Linked DNA regions of Homo sapiens: region 2 is linked to region 1. The links come from fine-mapping of genetic effects on gene expression. Tissue or cell type: whole blood. Region 1 holds a variant in brackets; the other region holds the start of a gene. All regions are shown on one strand. Distances are between the middles of the regions.

Region 1 (10,228 bases):
TTTGAGATGGAGTTTTGTTTTTGTTACCCAGGCTGGAGTGCAATGGCACGATCTCGGCTCACTGCAACCTCCGCCTCCCGGGTTCAAGCGATTCTTCTGCCTCAGCCTCCCAAGTAGCTGGGATTACAGGCATGGGCCACCACGCCCGGCTAATTGTGTTTCTTTGTTTGTGACAGAGTCTTGCTGTGTCGCCCAGGCTGGAGTGCAATGGCGTGATCTCGGCTCACTGCAACCTCTCCCTCCCGGGTTCAATCGACTCTTCTGCCTCAGCCTCCCAAGTAGCTGGGATTACAGGCATGCGCCACCACGCCTGGCTAATTGTCTGTTTCTTTGTTTGTGACAGAGTCTTGCTGTGTCGCCCAGGCTAGAGTGCAATGGCGTGATCTCGGCTCACTGCAACCTCTGCCTCCCAGGTTCAAGCAACCCTCCTGCCTCAGCCTCCCGAGTAGCTGGGACTACAAGCGCCTGCCACCACGCTTGGCTAATTTTTGTATTATTAGTAGGGACAGGGTTTCGCCATATTGGCCAGATTGGCCTCAAACTCCTGACCTCAGGTGATCCACGTGGCTCGGCCTCCCAAAGTGCTGAGATGACAGACGTGGGCCGCTGCACCCAGCAGTGATGGTTTATTGTATGTGTCAACTTGATTGGGTTAAGGGGTGCCCACATAGCTGGTAAAACATTATTTCTGTTTGTGTCTGCACAGGTGTTTCAGGAAGAGATACAAAATACAAAAGTTAGCCAGATGTGGTGGTGGGCACCTGTAGTCCCACCTACTTGGGAGGCTGAGGCAGGAGAATGGTGTGAACCCATAGGTGGAGGTTGCAGTGAGCCGAGATCGTGCCACTGCACTCCAGCCTGGGCGACACAGCAAGACTCTGTCAAAAACAAAAACAAAAAAACAAAAAAACAAATACAAACAAACAAACAAAACCCCATCACAGTAATGATGGAAGTAGTTTTGGAGGTGGCAAAAGCTGTAGTAATCTTGGCCATAACAGCAATCAGTCTTCGAATTTTGGATCCATGAAGGGAGGAGGATTTGGAGGCAGAAGCCCTGGCCCCTATGGTGATGGAGGCCAATATTTTGCCAAAACATGAAACCAAGATGGCTATGGCAGTTCCAGCAGCCCTGGTGGCCAGGGCGGTGGCAGAAAGCTTTAGTTACTTTGGGGAAATGAAGCTTAGCCAGCAGACAGAGCCAGGGAAATGACAGGGAAGCTCAGGTTACAAACAGACTTGTGAACTCAGCCAGGCACAGGGGTGGCAGGGCCTGTCTGTTATGAAGAAGGTGTGTTTTTTGTGTTTGTTTGCTTTTTTTGAGACGGAGTCTCGCTCTGTCGCCCAGGCTGGAGTGCAGTGGCGCGATCTCGGCTCACTGCAAGCTCCACCTCCCGGGTTCACGCCATTCTCCTGCCTCAGCCTCCTGAGTAGCTGAGATTTACAGGTGCCAGCCACCACGCCCGGCTAATTTTTTTTAATATTTTTTAGTAGAGACGGGGTTTCACCGTGTTAGCCAGGATGGTCTTGATCTCCCAACCTTGTGATCCGCCTGCCTCGGCCTCCCAAAGTGCTGGGATTACAGGCATGCGCCACCGCGCCCGGCCGTGTTTGATTTGAGACAGGCTCTCACTCTGTTGACAAGGCTGGAGTGCAGTGGCATGATCACAGCTCACTGCAGTCTCAACCCCTGGGCTCAAGCAATCCTCTCACCCCAGCTTCCCGAGTAGCTGGGACCACAGGTGCGTGCCGCCATGCCTGCCTATTTTTTTTTTTTTTTTTTGAGACACAGTCTCCCTCCATCGCCCAGGCTGGAGCTCACTGCAAGCTCTGCCTCCTTAGTTCATGGGAGTCTCCTGCCTCAGCCTCCCGAGTACCTGGGATTACAGGCGTGAACCACCACATCCGGCTATTTTTAAAATATTTTTAGTCGAGATGGGGTTTCACTATGTTGGTCAGGCTGGTCTTGAACTCCTGACTTCAAATCATCCACCCACCTCAGCCTCCCAAGGTGCTGGGATTACAGGCGTGAGCCACCACCCTCGGCTCCTGATTTTTTAATATTTTTTAAAGACGAAGTTCCACTATGTTGCCTAGGCTGATCTCAAACTCCCTGGCTTAAGCAATCCTCCCGCCTTAGCCTTCCAAAGTGCTGGGATTGCAGGCATGAGCCACCATACCCAGTGGAAGATGTATTGGAGACAATACTCATGTATATGGACAAAAAACAAAAACAAAAAACTCCAGGACTGTATTTGTGACTAATCGTATAACAGGTTATTTCAGTTTCTCTTCTGTGGAAAGTGCAAAGCATTCCAACAAAGGGTTTTAATGTAGATTTTTGTTTTGCACCCATGCTGTTGATGGCTAAATATAAGTGTCTGATGATAATGTTGAATAAAAAAAAAAAAAACAAAAAAAAAACCTTAGAGGAAGTTTTGCTATAAAGGGAGAAGAGAAATAGTCGCTAGAGGGGGGAATGAGATTGGAGGGTGTTTGGTGGAGTGGATGATATCACAGCAGGTTTTTGTTTTGTTTTGTTTTGTTTTGTTTTGAGACAGATGCCCAGGCTGGAGTGCAGTTGTGCGATCTCGGCTCACCGCAACCTTTGCCTCCTGGGCTCCAGCGATTCTCCTGCCTCAGCCTCCCAACTAGCTGGGACCACAGGCGCCCGCCACCATACCCCGCTAATTTTTTGTATTTTTAGTGGAGACTGGGTTTCGCCATGTTCGTCAGGCTGGTCTCAAACTCCTGACCTCAAGTGATCCGCCCGCCTCAGCCTCCCAAAGTGCTGTGATTACAAGTGTGAGCCACCGCGCTCAGCTCAAATCATCAGTTTTATGCTGATGGGGATGATGCAACAGACAAGGGGAAACCGGAAGATGCAGGAAAGAGATGGGAGAGGGATGGAAGGCGCAGCTGGGATTATCCAAGCACACGAGAGGCATCTGGGAGGAAGGGGTGCGTGGGCGCCAAGGCAGGTGGTGGTGGTGTTGGTGTGGGGAGTTCCCAAAAGTCCCTACTCCAATGACTTCCTTCTTCTCAGTGAAATGGGAAGCAAGAGTAAGTCTCAGTCAGCTGAGAGTGACAGCCACTCAAGTTGGTGCCCTTAAGACCACGCGGGTGGTGGAGCCTGTGGAGTGGAGATCACCTGTCTTTTATTTTCTTTTAAGACATGGGGGCCAGACGTGGTAGCTCATGCCTGTAATCCAAGCACTTTGGGGGGCCGAGGCAGGCGGATCATCTGAGGTCAGCCTGGCCAGCATGGTGAAACCCCATCTCTACTAAAAATAAAAAAGTTAGCCGGGCATGGTGGTGCACGCCTGTAATCTCAGCTACTTGGGAGGCTGAAGCAGAGGCCGCAGTGAGCTGAGATCGTGCCACTGCACTCCAGCCTGCGTGACAAGAGCGAGACTCCATCTCAAAAAAAAAACAAACCAAAAAACTTAAAAATACTCTGGGGTGGCAAACGAAATGTGGTGGCTGGATGGAGCCCTCAGGCCATGTGTTTGCAACCCTGGTGCAACTGCACTAAAGCACAGGCCAGAGTCAGTTCTGGGCTTTTGAGGGGCTCCAGGGTTTAGAGAACAGAAAGTCGAAGAGGAACCTGAGAAAGCCACCAAACAAGGAAGCTTCTTGTTTTTGTTTTTGTTTCTTTTTGAGACAGACTCTCACTCTGTCTCCCAGGCTGGAGTGCAATGGCGCGATCTCGGCTCAATGCAACCTCCACCTCCCAGGTTCAAGCAATTCTCCTGCCTCAGCCTCCCAAGTAGCTGGGATTACAGGTGCCCACCACCATGCCTGGCCAATTTTTGTATTTTTAGAGACGGTGTTTCTTTTTCTTTCTTTTTTCTTTTTTTTTTGAGACAGAGTCTTTCTCTGTCGCCAGGCTGGAGTGCAGTGACGCCATCTTGGCTCACTGCAACCGCTGACTCCCTGGTTCAAGGAATTCTACTAACTCAGCCTCCTGAGTAGCTGGGATTACAGGCACGTGCCACCATGCCCAGCTAATTCTTTGAATTTTTAGTAGAGATGGGGTTTCACCATGTTGGCCAGGATGGTCTCCATCTCCTGACCTCGTGATCCGCCCACCTCGGCCTCCCAAAGTGCTGGGATTACAGGTGTGAGCCACCGTGCCTGGCGGTTTTATTTGTTTTTTGAGACAGGGTCTCACTCTGTTGCCCAGGCTGGACTGCAGTGGCACTATCATGGCTCATTTCAGCCTTGAATTCCCAGGCTTGGGTGATTCTCCCACCTCAGTCTCCTGGGTAGCTGGGATTACAGGTGTATGCCACCAAGTCTGGCTAATTTTTTGTGTTTTTTGTAGAAATGGTGGTTTCAAGGCCGGGCGCGGTGGCTCACGCCTGTAATCCCAGTACACTGGGAGGCCGAGGTGGGCAGATCATGAGGTCAGGAGATCGAGACCATCCTGGCTAACAAGGTGAAACCCCGTCTCTACTAAAAATACAAAAAAAAAAAAAAAATTAGCCAGGCGTGGTGGCGGGCGCCTGTAGTCCCAGCTACTTGGGAGGCTGAGGCAGGAGAATGGTGTGAACCCAGGAGGCAGAGCTTGCAGTGAGCCAAGATCGCGCCACTGCACTCCAGCCTGGGCAACAGAACGAGACACAGTCTCAAAAAAAAAAAAAAAAAAAGAAATGGCGGTTTCATCATGTTGCCCCGGCTGGTCTCAACCTCTTGGGCTCAAGTGATCTGCTCACCTCTGCCTCCGAAAGTGCTGGAATTACAGGTGTAAGCCACCGAGCCCAGCCTCAAGGAAGCTTCTGAACTGTTAGGGGGAGCTCCTGCTCTAGGCCCAGCAGCTTCCAAGGCTTTAAAGGCATAATCCCATTTAATCTTGTAATGACGCTGTGAAGTGGCTCTTGGTATTAGCATTGCAATTCTGAGTATTATCTCCTCTTTGTAGATAAGGAAGATCATTTGCCCAAGGACACACAATGAGCAGATGAGACTGGAACCCAGATTTCTAGAGTGCTAGACTCTGTGTCTTCCCATTCACTTTATTTTTTATTTTATTTTATTTTATTTTTTTGAGACAGAGTCTCACTCTGTTGCCTAGGCTGGAGTGCAGTGGCACGATCTCAGCTCACTGCAACCTCTGCCTCCCAGGTTCAAGTAATTCTCGTGCCTCAGCCTCCCCAGTAGCTGGGATTACAGGCGTGTGCCACTATGCCTGGCTAATTTTTGTATTTTTAGTAAAGATGGGGTTTCACCGTGTTGGTGAGGCTGGTCTCAAACTCCTGACCTCAAGTGATCTGCCCACTTTGGCCTCCCAAAGTGCTGGGATTACAAGCGTGAGCCACCGTGGCCAGCCATAAAATTTTTTTTTTATTATAAAATATCTGGGCTTTTTTTGTTTTTTGTTTTTTAGTTGGGGCCTTGCTCTGTCACTCAGGCTGGAGTGCAGTGGTGCAATCTCAGCTCACTGCAGCCTCCGCCTCCTGGGCTCAAGTGATCCTCCTGTTACGGGATCTTTGGGGTGTTGCTTTTCTGGCCAGAAACCTCTGTGGCTGCAGTGCCTTTGCCCAAGTTCTTGTCCTGTGTCCAGGAAGAATGAGGTACACAGACAAGTGAAGGGTGAAGAAGATGAATAGGAGCTTTATTTAGTCTTAGAACAGCTCAGAGGAGACCGTCAGTGGGCAGCTCCTCTCAGTAGGCAGGTCACCCCATCGAGTGTTCAGCTCTCAGCAGAGATGAGGCCCTGAAGAGGGTGGTTCCTCTCGGCAGGCAGGTCATGTAGGCGTCTCTGCAGGTCTCTGAAGCTCTCAGTAGAGAGGGTAGCTCCTCTGTGCAGGTGGTAATCCCATTGTCTCTCTGTCCTCTGCCCTCTGCCCTGCTCTGGTGGAGCCTGGGGCTTTTATGGACCTCAGAGAGGAGGAAGTACGTGCTGGTTGGTCCATGGGCTGCCATGCGTGGGCCCAGAGGAGGTACAAGTCCCCACTCTTGTCTGTGGGGTTGGCAGCCTGGCCCCCAGCCTTCAGGCCCTCCCTGGCAAGAAGGTGGGGCCTTACTAGGGACCCCCCACCAACTTCTGCCCAGGAATCCGTCTGCCTCCTGCTGCCATTCATGGCCCCAGGACTGGACCCCAACCCCGATCCCAGATCAGAGCTGGCGCTGGGAGAGAAGAGAGGCCAGGCAGCAGGAGAAGACACCCAGCAGTCTGCAGAGATTGGGGGGGCCTTCCCGGCCTCTGAGAGTGCAGGCTGCAGAGAGGCCCAGGTCCT[C/G]AGCCTCAGAGGGCGGCCACAGCTGCATCCGGGGAGCTCCTGCCCTGCCAACTCGGAAGGGGTGGGGCTCCCACTTGTCCCCGGCTCTTGCTCACTCTGTGGAGCTGGAGGCCTAGGTTGGCAGCCATGGGGGCAGCTGCAGCTGCACCCGGGAGGGCAGACCCTACCTACTTCTGGCCCCTGCAAGAGCACAGGAAGGCTCAATCCACAGTGGCGGTTTGGGCGGCTGCAGTGGCATCTGGGGAACTCCCACCACAGCTCAGAAGGGGCAGGGCTTCCACCGGCTCCATGGAGTGTGTAGCCCCAGCCGCACCTCCCTGCTGCAGCCGGTGTAATGACAGCAGCCACTGCCATCACTCCTGCCTCAGTCTCACTAGTAGCTGGGACTACAGGCGTGCACCACCACGCTAGGCTGATTTTTAAAATTTTTAGCAGAGACAGGGGTCTCCCTATGTTGCGCAGGCTGGTCTCGAACTACTGAGCTCCAGCTCGGCCTCCTGCCTCAGCCTCCCAAAGTGCTGGGATTACAGGTGTGAGCCACTGCGCCAGGCCTAAAATAATTGTTTTGGTTTTTCTTTTTGTTTGAGACAGTTGTCTTCTGTTCTGCACACGCAGCAGGAAATTGGATCTCTACCTCACAGCATACTCAAAAGAGTTGAAATATAACCTATTTGTAGTTATCAGCGACCTGGGTGAAGACACACCTGGCAGAAGGGTGTGGTAGCCTCATTAAACATGAGTGAGAATGAATTCCAGGTGGAGATGGGAGAGATGATTTATTTGCTAGCTGGGGAAAGAAGAGGCAGGCCCAGCCCAGAGGGAGAATGAGAGGCGGAAGATGACATTCGCTGCATGCCTGACACCTGCCTGAAGTTAACCAGGGTCAGCCCGGCCTTTCCTCCCCCGGGATGTCTCCAACTCGGCTGACAACATCCACTTTAATTAATACAGCACAGCAGGACACTTCCTGTGTACAGCTACACGCTAAGGGCCAGGAGTAGCCTAATGTCCTTGAGCCCCAGAGAAACCATCGTGTGTTCAAGCATGCTGTCTGGAAACTTAGAAAGGGCTCATGACTCCTCTCTGCTTTCACACCCCACATCCCATCCAGGGGAAATCCTGTTGACCTTCAAAATGCACCCGAAGTCGGACCCCCCAAAGGCTGGACGCCGTGGCTCACGCCTGTAATCCCAGTACTTTGGGAGGCCTAGGCAGGCGGATCACCTGAGGTCAGGAGTTCGATATCAGCCTGGCCAACATGGTGAAACCCCGTCTCTACTAAAAAATACAAAATTAGCCAGGTGTGGTGGCACACGCCTGTAATCCCAGCTACTCGGAAGGCTAAGACAGGAGAATCGCTTGAAGCTGGGAGATGGAGGCTGCAGTGAGCCGTGATCGCACCATTGCACTCCAGCCTGGACAAGACACAGCGAGACTCCACCTCAAAACAAAAACAAAAACAAAAACAAAAACAAAAACAAAGTCTGAACCCCCAGAGCTAGTCTAGCCATGATCATTTCTCACCTGGAAAATTGCAGTCACCTCCTCGCTGCTTCTGCCCTTGTCCCCAACAGAAAGGTCCCCATATGGCAGCAGAATCCTTTGACAGAAGTGACATGATGTCATTCTCCTCCTCAAATCCCTTCTGTGGCTCCTGCCACACTCACTAAAAGACAACATCTTCACCATGACTCACCAGCTCCCTGTTCTCTGTCTGACCTCATCTTCCACCCGCTCTTCCTCTGTTCCATGCAGACTGTGACTGGCTTTTTTTGTTTTTTTTTTTTTTTGAGACGAAGTCTCGCTCTGTCACCCAGCCTGGAGTGCAGTGCCGTGATCACGGCCCACTGCAACCTCTGCCTCCCGGGTTCAAGTGATTCTCCTGCCTCAGTCTCGCCTCCTGAATAGCTGGGATTACAGACGCCCACCACTACTACACCCAGCTGATTTTTTTTTGTATTTTAGTAGAGACGGGGTTTCTCCATGTTGGCCAGGCTGGTCTTGAACTCCTGACCTCAGGTGATCCGCCTGCCTCGGCCTCCCAAAGTGCTGGGATTACAAGGGTGAGCTACCGTGCACAGCCAAGGGTATTGGTTTCTTATTGCTCCTGTAACAAATGACCATACACTTAGTGGCTCCATAGGAGACAGATTTATTTACTACCTTACTGTTCTGGAGGTTTTTTTTTTTTTTTTTTTTTACCACAGGGTCTGGCTCTATGATGCAGGCTGGAGTGCAGTGGCCTGATCATGGCTCACTGCAGCCTCAGCCTCCTGGGCTCAAGCAGTTCTCCTGTCACAGCCTCCCAAGTAGCTGAGACTACAGGTGTGTGCCACCATGCCCGGCTAATTTTAAAAAATTTTTTGTAGAGACTCTTCCTATGTTGCCCAGGCTGGTCTCCAACTCCTGGGCTCAAGCGATCTTCCTGCCTCGGCCTCCCAAAGTGCTGGGATTACAGGCATAAACCATTGCCCCAGGCCCCCAAAATGGGTTTTACAGGGCTAATATCAAGGTGTTGGCTGGGCTGCATCCCTTCTGGAGACTCTAGGGCTTCTCCTGGAGGCTCTCTTGCCCTGTCCAGCTTCAGGAAGCTGTCCACATTCCTCAGCTCAAGGCCCTCCTTGCATCACTCTAACTGAGGCAGGAGAATAGGGTCTGGAGCCAGAGAGCCTAAGGCCAATTCATGATGACTGGATATCAGAGGCTACTCCCCTTTCAAACCCTCCTTTTTCTGCATGGCTGTTGAAAAATGAAAGTACCTCTGAGTGGTCCCCTCCTGTAACCAATCAGACTGGTCCTGAGCCTACTCTTCATTCTGATTGGCCCCCTCCTGCAACCAATCAGACTGGCTGCGGGCCTATGCATCATTCTAATTGGTCCTCTCCCACAACCAATCAGACTGGTTACAGGCCTACTCTTCATTCGAATTGGTCCTCTCCTACAACCAATCAGACTGGTCACAGGCCAATGGGAAACTTCCAGAGGGTATTCAAATCCCCAAAAATTCTGTAACGGACACTTTTCAGCTGCTAGCTTGAGTCCACTCCCACCCTGTGAAGTGTGCTTTCCTTTAAAATAGATCTCTGCTTTTGCTGCCTTGCTTTGTGCGTTTCCTCTGCCTCCCGGGTTCAAGCAATTCTCTGCCTCAGCCTCCTGAGTAGCTGGGATTACAAGCACGTGCCACCACACCCAGCTAATTTATATATTTTTAGTAGAGACGGGGTTTCACCATCTTGGCCAGGCTTGTCTTGAACTCCTGACCTTGCGATCCACCCGCCTCGGCCTCCCAAAGTGCTGGGATTACAAGCGTGAGCCACCGCACCTGGCTGAGTATTGCAATTCTACATGAGATTTGGGTTAGGACACACACCCAAATCATATCACGGGGATTTGCTGTTTCCCAGGTTGGTCTCAAACCCCTGGGCTCAAGGCATCCTCCCGCCTCAGCCTCTCAAAGTGCTGGAATTACAGGCATCAGCCACTGTGCCCGGCTGAACTATATTCTTTCTTTTTTTTGAGAAAGAGTCTTAGTCTGTCACCCAGGCTGGAGTACAATAGTGTGATCTCAACTCACTGCAACCTCTGCCTCCCTGTTTCAAGCGATTCTCATGCCTCAGTCTCCCAAGTAGCTGGGATTACAGGTGTGTGCCACCATGTCCAGCTAATTTTTTGTATTTTTTTTTTTTAGTGGACGTGAGGTCTCACTATGTTGGCCAGGCTGGTCGCAAACCCCTGGCCTCAAGTGATTTGAAAGCCTCCGCCTCCCAAAGTGCTGGGATTAGAGGCATAAGCCACTGTGTCCAGCCTTATACACTCTTTCTTTCTTTTTTTTTTTTCTGTCACCCAGGCTGGAGTGGAGTGGTGTGATCTCTACTCACAGCAACCTCTGTCTCCTGGATTCAAGTGATTCTCGTGCCTCAGAGTAGCTGGGACTATAGGCACGCACCACCACAAGCAGCTAATTTTTATATTTTTAGTAGAGATGG
Region 2 (9,114 bases), 33 kb after region 1:
AGGCATGAGCCATTGTGCCTAGCCTCGAACTCTTGAGCTTAAGCGATCCTCCTGCCTCAGCTTCCCAGGTTGCTGGGATTACAAGTGTGTGCGCCACTGTGCCTGGCCTCCCTCTATACTTTTGTGACCACCTAATTTTTATTTTTTTAGAGACAAGGTCTCACTGTGTTCCCTAGGCTGGAGTGCAGCAGTGGCACGATCACAGCTCACTATAACCTTGAACTCCAGAGCTCAAGTGATCCTCCTGCCTTGGCCTCCAAAAGTGTTCGAATTATAGTTGTGAACCACTGATCCCAGCCTGATTTATTATTGCAATTTACCCTTCATTCATCTAATTCCTCACTTTTCCTAATGCATGCATACATACATATATATTTCCCTCCACAGCACTTTCTGCTTTGTGACAATAAGTTACAAGCCAGATAACCCACTTAGCCTACATGCATATTATGTTTAGTATTTATTGACCGTGTCCTGCTGCTAGAATATCAGTGCTAGCAGAGAAGGGATTTTCATCTGTTTTGCTCGTGTTTTTCTCATCTGTTTTTCTTTGCCTTTTTTTCTTTTCATGCTTTGTCGCCCAGGCTGGAGTGCAGTGGTGCAATCTTGGTTCACTGCAACCTCTGCCTCTTAGGTTCAAGTGATTCTCCTGTCTCAGCCACTCGAGTAGCTGGGATTACGGGTAGGTAGCACCACGCCCCGCTAATTTTTGTATTTTTAGTTGAGATGAGGTTTCACCATGTTGGCCAGGCTGGTTTTGAATTCCTGGCCTTGAGAGATCCACCCACCTCAACCTTCCAAAGTGCTGGGATTCCAGGAGTGAGCCACTGCTCCCGGCTCCTCATCTGTTTTTCTCAGTGTTTGATAAATATTGGCCAGATGAGTCATCACAACGATCCCATGTCAGCTCATGGGCATCCGTCTCCTTCTATTTGATGTCTCTCAGTCTTCTATTCTGTGGATGTGGTTTGTTGAATGAATGAATAAATGAATCACCAAGCGGACAGATGCCTAGCTGAAGAGTGGTTTTCATCCTGAGGGAGGCCACTGGGGCTGTTCAGAGAGTAGGGGTGGCCCAGTTAGATCTGTGCTTTGAAATATTCCAGACTCTTCTGAAGTCTGGGATTTTTTTTTTTTTTTTTTTTTTAGACAGAGTCTTGCTTTATTGCCCAGGCTGGAGTGCAGTGGTGCAATCTTGGCTCACCGTAACCTCTGCCTTCTGGGTTCAAGTGATTCTCCTGCCTCAGCCTCCAGAATAGCTGGGATTACAGGCGTGTGCCATTAGTCCTGGCTATTTTTTTTACTTTTTATTTTCAGAAGAGACAGGGTTTTGCCATGTTGGCCAGGCTGGTCTGGAATTCCTGGTCTCCAGCAATCTACCCGCATTAGTCTCCCAAAGTGCTGGGATTACAGGCGTGAGCCACCATGCCTGGCCAGAAGTCTGGGATTTTGCATGTGCTATTCTCTTTGTCTGGAATATTCTTTCCCTGGGATTGGTCCAACTCCTTCATATCCCAGCTCCGATGCCTCCTCCTCCAGGAAGCTCTCCCTGACCCCCAAGCCTGGTCAAGCATCCCTTCTGGGCTCCCCCATCCCAGCCCTGCCCACTCTGTATCATCACTATCTGTGTCCCCCCCTGAACTTTGAGTCCCAGCAGAACGGGGCCAGAACTGTCTTGTTCGCCACTGGGTCCCTGGTATCACCCATCGCAGGACCCAACACTGGGCTCAGAATACATGACTGTCCCTTGAAGGAAATGTCTAGTTGGAGACAGCCGAGTGCAGGGGTAGCCAGGGTGTCTGATAGGAGATGCAGACAAGGATCAGAAACATCTGAGTTCAGATTTCTTGCTTATGCCTGGGGTTTGGGCCACAGCAAGCCTCATTACCCTTATCTGCTTCCAAATCAGGAAAATGGGAGTGTGAGCTGGTCTCCTGGATTAGTGGGGATAAAACCATGTCTGTGAGCACTGCTAACAGAGATGGAAACCTCTCTGTTGCCTCAGGGCTTCACACGCGTCCTTTGAATGTTTCCACATTATGCCATGGGCTCCTTCTTATCTTTCAGATCTCAGTGCAGATGTCACTTCCTTCCAGTGGCTGAACTGTTCACTCTGTCACTCATAGGATGCTTTTGCTTTCTCCCAACGCTTAGTTCCAGCTGACAGCCCAAGTTTATTGTCTTGTCTCTTCCGCACTAGAATGCACGCTCTAGCAGCCAAGGATTTTGTGTGTGTGTGTGTGTGTGTGTGTGTGTGTGTGATACAGAGTCTGGCTCTGTTGCCCAGGCTGGAGTGCAATGGTGAGATCTCAGCTCACTGCAACTTCTGCCTCCCAGGTTCAAGCGATTCTCCTGCCTCAGCCTCCCGAGTATCTGGGATTACAGGCGTGGACCACCACACCCGGCTAATTTTTTAGTATTTTTAGTAGAGATGGGGTTTCACCATGTCGGCCAGGCTGGTTTTGAACTCCTGACCTCAAGTGATCCGCCCGCCTCGGCCTCCCAAACTGCTGGGATTACAGGTGTAAGCCACTGCACCCGGCCAAGCCCAAGTTTATTGTCTTGTCTCTCTGCACTAGAATGCAAGCTCTAGCAGCCAAGGAATTTTTTGTTTTTTTGTTTTTTTTTTTGATACAGAGTCTCACTCTGTTGCCCAGGCTGGAGTGCAGTGGTGTGATCTCCGCTCACTGCAACCTCTGACGCCTGGGTTCAAGCAGTTCTCCTGCCTCAGCCTCCCAAGTAGCTGGGACTACAGCCGCCCGCCACCACGCCCAACTAATTTTTGTATTTTTAGTAGAGACAGGGTTTCACCATATTGGCCAGGATGGTCTCCATCTCCTGACCTCATGATCTGCCCACTTAGGCCTCCCAAAGTGCTGGGATTACAGGCATGAGACACTGTGCCTGGCCTATTTTCATGTTTTTGTATTTTTAGTAGAGATGGGGTTTCACCATGTTGGCCAGGCTGGTCTTGAACTCCTGACCTCAAGTGATCCACCTGCCTTGGCCTCCCATAGTGATGGGATTACAGGCGTGAGCCACCGCTCCCAGCCTAAATCTTTTTTCCCTTTAGACTGAGTCTTGCTCTGTCACCTAAGCTGGAGTGCAGTGGTGAGATTACAGCTCACTGTAGCCTTGACCTCCTGGCTCAAGCGATCCTCCCGCCTCACCCTCCTAAGTAGCTGGGACTATTGGCGCATACCACCACACTCAGCTTATTTTTTAATTTTTTTGTAGAGACGGAGTCTCGCCATGTTGCCCAGGCTGGTCTCAAATTCCTGGGCTCAAGTGAGCCTCCCACCTTGGCCTCCCAAAGTGCTGGGATTAAGGGTGTAAGCCACTGTGAAATTTTTTTTTTTTTTTTTTTTGAGACGGAGTCTCGCTCTGTCGCCCAGGCTGGAGTGCAGTGGCGTGATCTCGGCTCACTGCAAGCTCCGCCTCCCGGGTTCACACCATTCTCCTGCCTCAGCCTCCCGAGTAGCTGGGACTACAGGCGCCCGCCATCATGCCTGGCTGATTTTTTGTATTTTTAGTAGAGACGGGGTTTCACCGTGTTAGCCAGGATGGTCTCGATCTCCTGACCTTGTGATCCACCCGCCTCGGCCTCCCAAAGTGCTGGGATTACAGGCGTGAGCCACCATGCCCGGCCGAAAAATTTTTTAAAATATTTATTTATTTATTTTGAGACGGAGTCTCACTCTGTCACTAGGCTGGAGTGCAGAGGTGTGATCTTGGCTCACTGCAACCTCCACCTCCCGGGTTCAAGCGATTCTCCTGCCTCAGCCTCCTGAGTAGCTGGGACTACAAGTGCATGCCACCATGCCCAACTAATTTTTGTATTTTTAGTAGAGACAGAGTTTCACCATATTGGCCAGGATGGTCTCGATCTCCTGACCTCATGATCTGCCCACTCTGGCCTCCCAAAGTGCTGAGATTACAGACATGAGCCACCATGCCTGGCCTATTTTCATGTTTTTAAAGATAAGGTCTCACTATGTTGCCCCGGATGGAGTCTAGTGGCTAAATGTGGGCACGATCATAGCTCACTGCAGCCTTGAACTCCTGGCCTCAAGGGATCCTCCTGCTTTAGCCTCCCAAATACCTGGGACTACAGGTGCATGCCACTGAATCCAGCTTGTTCTTCAGTAATAATAACAATAACAGCAATCGCAGCAGTAGTATTTGACTTTCTTCTGAAGGGCATTTTTGTTAGAAACAAAAGAAGAGAGAAAGAACAAAAAATTTTAAAGCACAAATAAATAACTTTTTTTTTTTTGAGGTGGAGTCTCACTCTGTCACCCAGGCTGGAGTGCAGTGGTGAGATCTCGGCTCTTCGCAACCTCTGCCTCCTGGATTCAAGCAATTCTTCTGCCTCAGCCTCCTGAGTAGCTGGGATTACAGGCATGTGCCACCACACCCAGCTAATTTTTGCATTTTCAGCAGAGACAGGGTTTTGCCATGTTGGCCAGGCTCGTCTGGAACTCCTGACCTCAAGTGATCTGCCCGCATCAACTCCCAAAGTGGTGGGATAACAGGCGTGAGCCACTGCGCCCGGCCGTATTATCTCATTTGAACCCTTGCAACACTCAAGGCGGTATGACTTATTATTATTCCCATTTACACATATGAAGACTGAGCCTCATAGAGGTTGTAAATTACCTGAGGCCTCACAGCTGCTGTAGGAGGAAGCTTCTGACATTACCACTACAATCTTTGAGCAAGCATGAAAGCCTGAAATGTCACAGAACAGGCTAGAGATGGGAAAGGAATGAGGATTTCAACACTGTCAGGTGGAGTAAGGAATCATAATTCATTGTTAACCTCCCAAACGGCCACTAACAGAGAATTTGGGGAGGCAGCAGAGTGGGTGCGGTTAGGGGCTTGGGAGGTGGGCATGCACGTGTCATCCTCTCTAGGTGTGGCCTCAAGGTGAATGACTTCCTCTGCCTCTGGGGTTCAAGCGATTCTCCTGCCTCAGGCTTCCAGTAGCTGGGATTACAGGCACGTGCCACCACACCAGGTAATTTTTGTATTTTTAGTAGAGACGGGTTTCACCATGTTGGCCAGGCTGGTCTCGACCTCCTGACCTCAAGTGATCCGCCCGCTTCACCTCCCAAAGTGGTGGGATTACAGGCTTGAGCCACGGCTCCCTAAATAAATACATCAATTTTATTTAAATCTTACAGCAATCATATGAGACAAAAGCTTTTAACACCTGCACTTTATATTCGAGGAATTAAAGTTCTCAGAGGCGACTAAAGACCAAACTCAGGGCTGAGGAGTTCCAAAGCTGAGTTGAGTTGCAAATGAATCACCGAGGACCACCGGAGCTTTCTAGCGACCCTCGCACCAGGGAACGAACCCCTGTGGTTTAAGGGCTCCAACCCACAACCCAGTTCCTTTGGCGGGAAACAGCACCCTCCCAAGGCCCCGCCCCTTCCTGGCCCCGCCCCGTCGTCTCTGGGCCCGGCTCCTGGAGATGGGTATTATTAATCTGCCTTCTATGGGGGACCTGGCCCATCTCGGGTATCAGCCCCGCCCCTACTCGTCCAGTCTCCGAACGCTCTGCAGCCAATCGGCGCCCGAGGGTCGGTCCCCGCCTTCTCAAGCCCCGCCCCCTACCCTTATCCCTGGCAGCTTCCGCTAAACGGGCTCAGAGCCACGCGGCACGCCCGGGAGGCTTTCTCTGGCTGGTAACCGCTACTCCCGGACACCAGACCACCGCCTTCCGTACACAGGGGCCCGCATCCCACCCTCCCGGACCTAAGAGCCTGGGTCCCCTGTTTCCGGAGGTCCGCTTCCCGGCCCCCAGATTCTGGCATCCCAGCCCTCAGTGTCCAAGACCCAGGCAGCCCGGGTCCCCGCCTCCCGGATCCAGGCGTCCGGGATCTGCGCCACCAGAACCTAGCCTCCTGCAGACCTCCGCCATCTGGGGGCACTCAACCTCCTGGAGCCAAGGGCCCCACGTCCCACCCAGAGAAACTCTCGTATTCCCAGCTCCTAGGGCCAAGGAACCCGGGCGCTCCGAACTCCCAGCTTTCGGACATCTGGCACACGGGGCAGAGCAGAGAAGCCTCAGCGCCCAGCCTGGGGAATTTAAACACTCCAGCTTCCAAGAGCCAAGGAACTTCAGTGCTGTGAACTCACAACTCTAAGGAGCCCTCCAAAGTTCCAGTCTCCAGGTGCTGTTACTCAACTCAGTCCTAGGAACGTCGGGTCCTGGGAAGGAGCCCAAGCGCTCCCAGCCAGCTTCCAGGCGCTAAGAAACCCCGGTGCTTCCCATCATGGTGGCCGATCCTCCTCGAGACTCCAAGGGGCTCGCAGCGGCGGAGCCCACCGCCAACGGGGGCCTGGCGCTGGCCTCCATCGAGGACCAAGGCGCGGCAGCAGGCGGCTACTGCGGTTCCCGGGACCAGGTGCGCCGCTGCCTTCGAGCCAACCTGCTTGTGCTGCTGACAGTGGTGGCCGTGGTGGCCGGCGTGGCGCTGGGACTGGGGGTGTCGGGGGCCGGGGGTGCGCTGGCGTTGGGCCCGGAGCGCTTGAGCGCCTTCGTCTTCCCGGGCGAGCTGCTGCTGCGTCTGCTGCGGATGATCATCTTGCCGCTGGTGGTGTGCAGCTTGATCGGCGGCGCCGCCAGCCTGGACCCCGGCGCGCTCGGCCGTCTGGGCGCCTGGGCGCTGCTCTTTTTCCTGGTCACCACGCTGCTGGCGTCGGCGCTCGGAGTGGGCTTGGCGCTGGCTCTGCAGCCGGGCGCCGCCTCCGCCGCCATCAACGCCTCCGTGGGAGCCGCGGGCAGTGCCGAAAATGCCCCCAGCAAGGAGGTGCTCGATTCGTTCCTGGATCTTGCGAGGTCAGCTCCCGCTCCCCCGGGAGGTGGGGAAGAGTGTTACGGATGGCGGGAGTGGTCACGTGGACAGGACGGGGCTTTGGGGCCCCTGGAGCAGAGACTTCCCTCTAGAGTCTTAGGAAAACTCGACAGGATATTGAGGGGAGGCTCCAGCCCTCGGGAGTGTGAGTCTAGTCTCCTGGGGAAGGGGTTTCTAAATCTGGGGGCCTGGGTACATAAGTGGGGTCTTATAGAGGGAGAAGAAAGTGATTTGGGGAGACATAGGAGGGTCTGCCTAGGGGAGAAAGACACTGAGGGGAGGGGACCCCAGGAGGAACTTTTGCGGGGGGAATCTTTGCGTGGTCAAGGGCCCCAAGATGGGGCTTCTAGATATAATTTGGGGCCAGGGTTGGAGAGTTTGGGTAAGGAGCCCCTGGAGGATCTGAGATCTGAGTAACTCCCACCAGGCCCTCTTCCCAGCCCTGGGGCACCCCCACACCACGTGTCACTCGGACATAACCAGGCTCTGTTTTTGGCCTCCGCTTCCCGCCCATTTCAGCTGGGGTCTGGCCGCTTCCCCTTTATCTTTTAGATCAGCCCTGCCACCCCTGCCTTTCCCTCCCGTTTCCTCCTCTGTCTGGGCCACCCCCTAGCAGGCAGCCCAGAAGAGGACCAGTTAGAAAGGGGAGCAGATTCTTTTCCTTCTCCTGGCCTCTGCCCCGCGCCCCCAAGAATGGCCTCCCCCACTTTGAGGAGGGCGGGGGGCAGAGGCCCCCTTGCGCTTGCCTTTAGGGCTTGCTCATTCAGTGTCTCCACGTTGGGGACTTCCTGGAAGTTGGGGGAAGGAAATGATGAGTCACGGAACAGGGTTCTCCAGCCTCTGGGGCGTCAGTGCAGGCTGAGATGCGAGACTGGGGCAGGCTTGGTGTCCCGAGTTGAAGCCTGGGAGCACCTTCTGGCTGGGGGAGATTAGCTGGGTCCTGGCCCAGCCTGGGCCTGGGTGGTACAGGCGGACCTTCAGGCAGGCACACCCACTCCGAGGCTGTTTATGAGCACAGGCCTCCCCTGCGTGCCAAAACAGCTGTAGCTCACACTTGGCCTGCCACACAGGCTTATAACCAAATGACATACAGCTGGACACATTCACGCAGACACTCAGCTGAGGCTGTAGCATCTCGACAAACACATGGCCAGATACCAGCGGTCATACACACGCTCACTGTGTACTAAGACCCCTGTAGCACAGCCATTCAGTGATGCCACCAGCCACGCCAACATCTAAACACAGGCTCAAGAGCACACAATACACACTCACATACACACCTATGTGGTCACACACCAATAAACTCATGCTTTTTTTTTTTTTTTTTGAGACAGTCTCTGTTGCTCAGGCTGGAGTGCAGTGGTGCGATCTTGGCTCATTGCAACCTCTACCTCCTGGATTTAAGTGATTCTCGTGCCTCAGCCTTCCGTGTGCCACCACGCCTGGATAATTTTTGTGTTTTTAGTAGAGACGGGGTTTTGCCATGTTGGCCAGGCTGGTCTCGAACCCCTGACCTCAAGTTATCTGCCCACCTCAGCCTCCCAAAAGGCTGGAATTACTGGCGTGAGCCACCGCACCCGGCCAAACTCATTCCTCTACCATGACGTTATTTTACTGTACCGTGATGCATGGGTGGCCATCCATGGACACTGTCCCATACTACTGAACCTTAACCTGCACCCAAACTATTAACATTTGACAGATTGTATATGGGCACATGGCGTTGGCTGTACACCAGTCATTGGTGAGAGGGAGCATGTGGAGTGCTTGGGGCTATGGAGCCAGCTGGCTGGGTTCAAATCCCAGCTCTGCTATTTCCCAGCTGGGCAATTTTCTTTACCCTTCTGGGCCTCAGCTTCCTTTTCTGTAAAATGGGGTAATAGTGATTATCCCCAAGGCTGTCGTGAGGATGAAATGGGTTAATTTGTGTCAAGCACAGGCCAAAATGCCTGCCTGCCACACGGTAGGTGCTGTAGATGGCTTAGCTGCTATATATATTTTTTGAGAGAGTCTCACTCGGTCCCAGGCTGGAATGCAGTGGCTTGATCTTGGTTCACTGCAGCCTCAACCTCCTCGGGCTTGAGTGATCCTCCCACCTCAGCCTCCAGAGTAGCTGGAACTACAGGCACATGCCACCATGCCTGGCTAATTTTTGTATTTTTTGTAGAGACACGGTTTCGTCATGTTGCCCAGGTTGGTCTTCAACTCCTGGCTCAAGCGATCTGTCTGCCTTGGCCTCCCAAAG

Evidence for each region. PIP is the estimated chance that this variant, and not a neighbour inherited with it, causes the effect.
Region 2: SLC1A5 starts here. The variant in region 1 is fine-mapped to the expression of SLC1A5 in whole blood (INTERVAL, PIP 0.99).

What each region holds. Positions count from the first base shown.
Region 1 is chr19:46,817,830-46,828,057 of GRCh38, reverse strand. No RefSeq gene overlaps it. Among named protein-coding and RNA genes, the nearest start is that of SNAR-E, 7.8 kb to the left of the region's middle. RefSeq lists enhancers at 6,139-6,198, 6,369-6,488. The variant C/G (reference allele first, on the strand shown) is at 6,243.
Region 2 is chr19:46,785,136-46,794,249 of GRCh38, reverse strand. SLC1A5 (solute carrier family 1 member 5) reads left to right here and starts at 5,656. Exons shown (of 8, transcript NM_005628.3): 1 at 5,656-6,850. The coding sequence starts at 6,285. RefSeq lists silencers at 5,339-5,498, 6,469-6,518, 6,529-6,578 and enhancers at 5,444-5,738, 5,387-5,988, 7,795-8,396, 8,397-8,998, 8,999-9,114 and 1 more.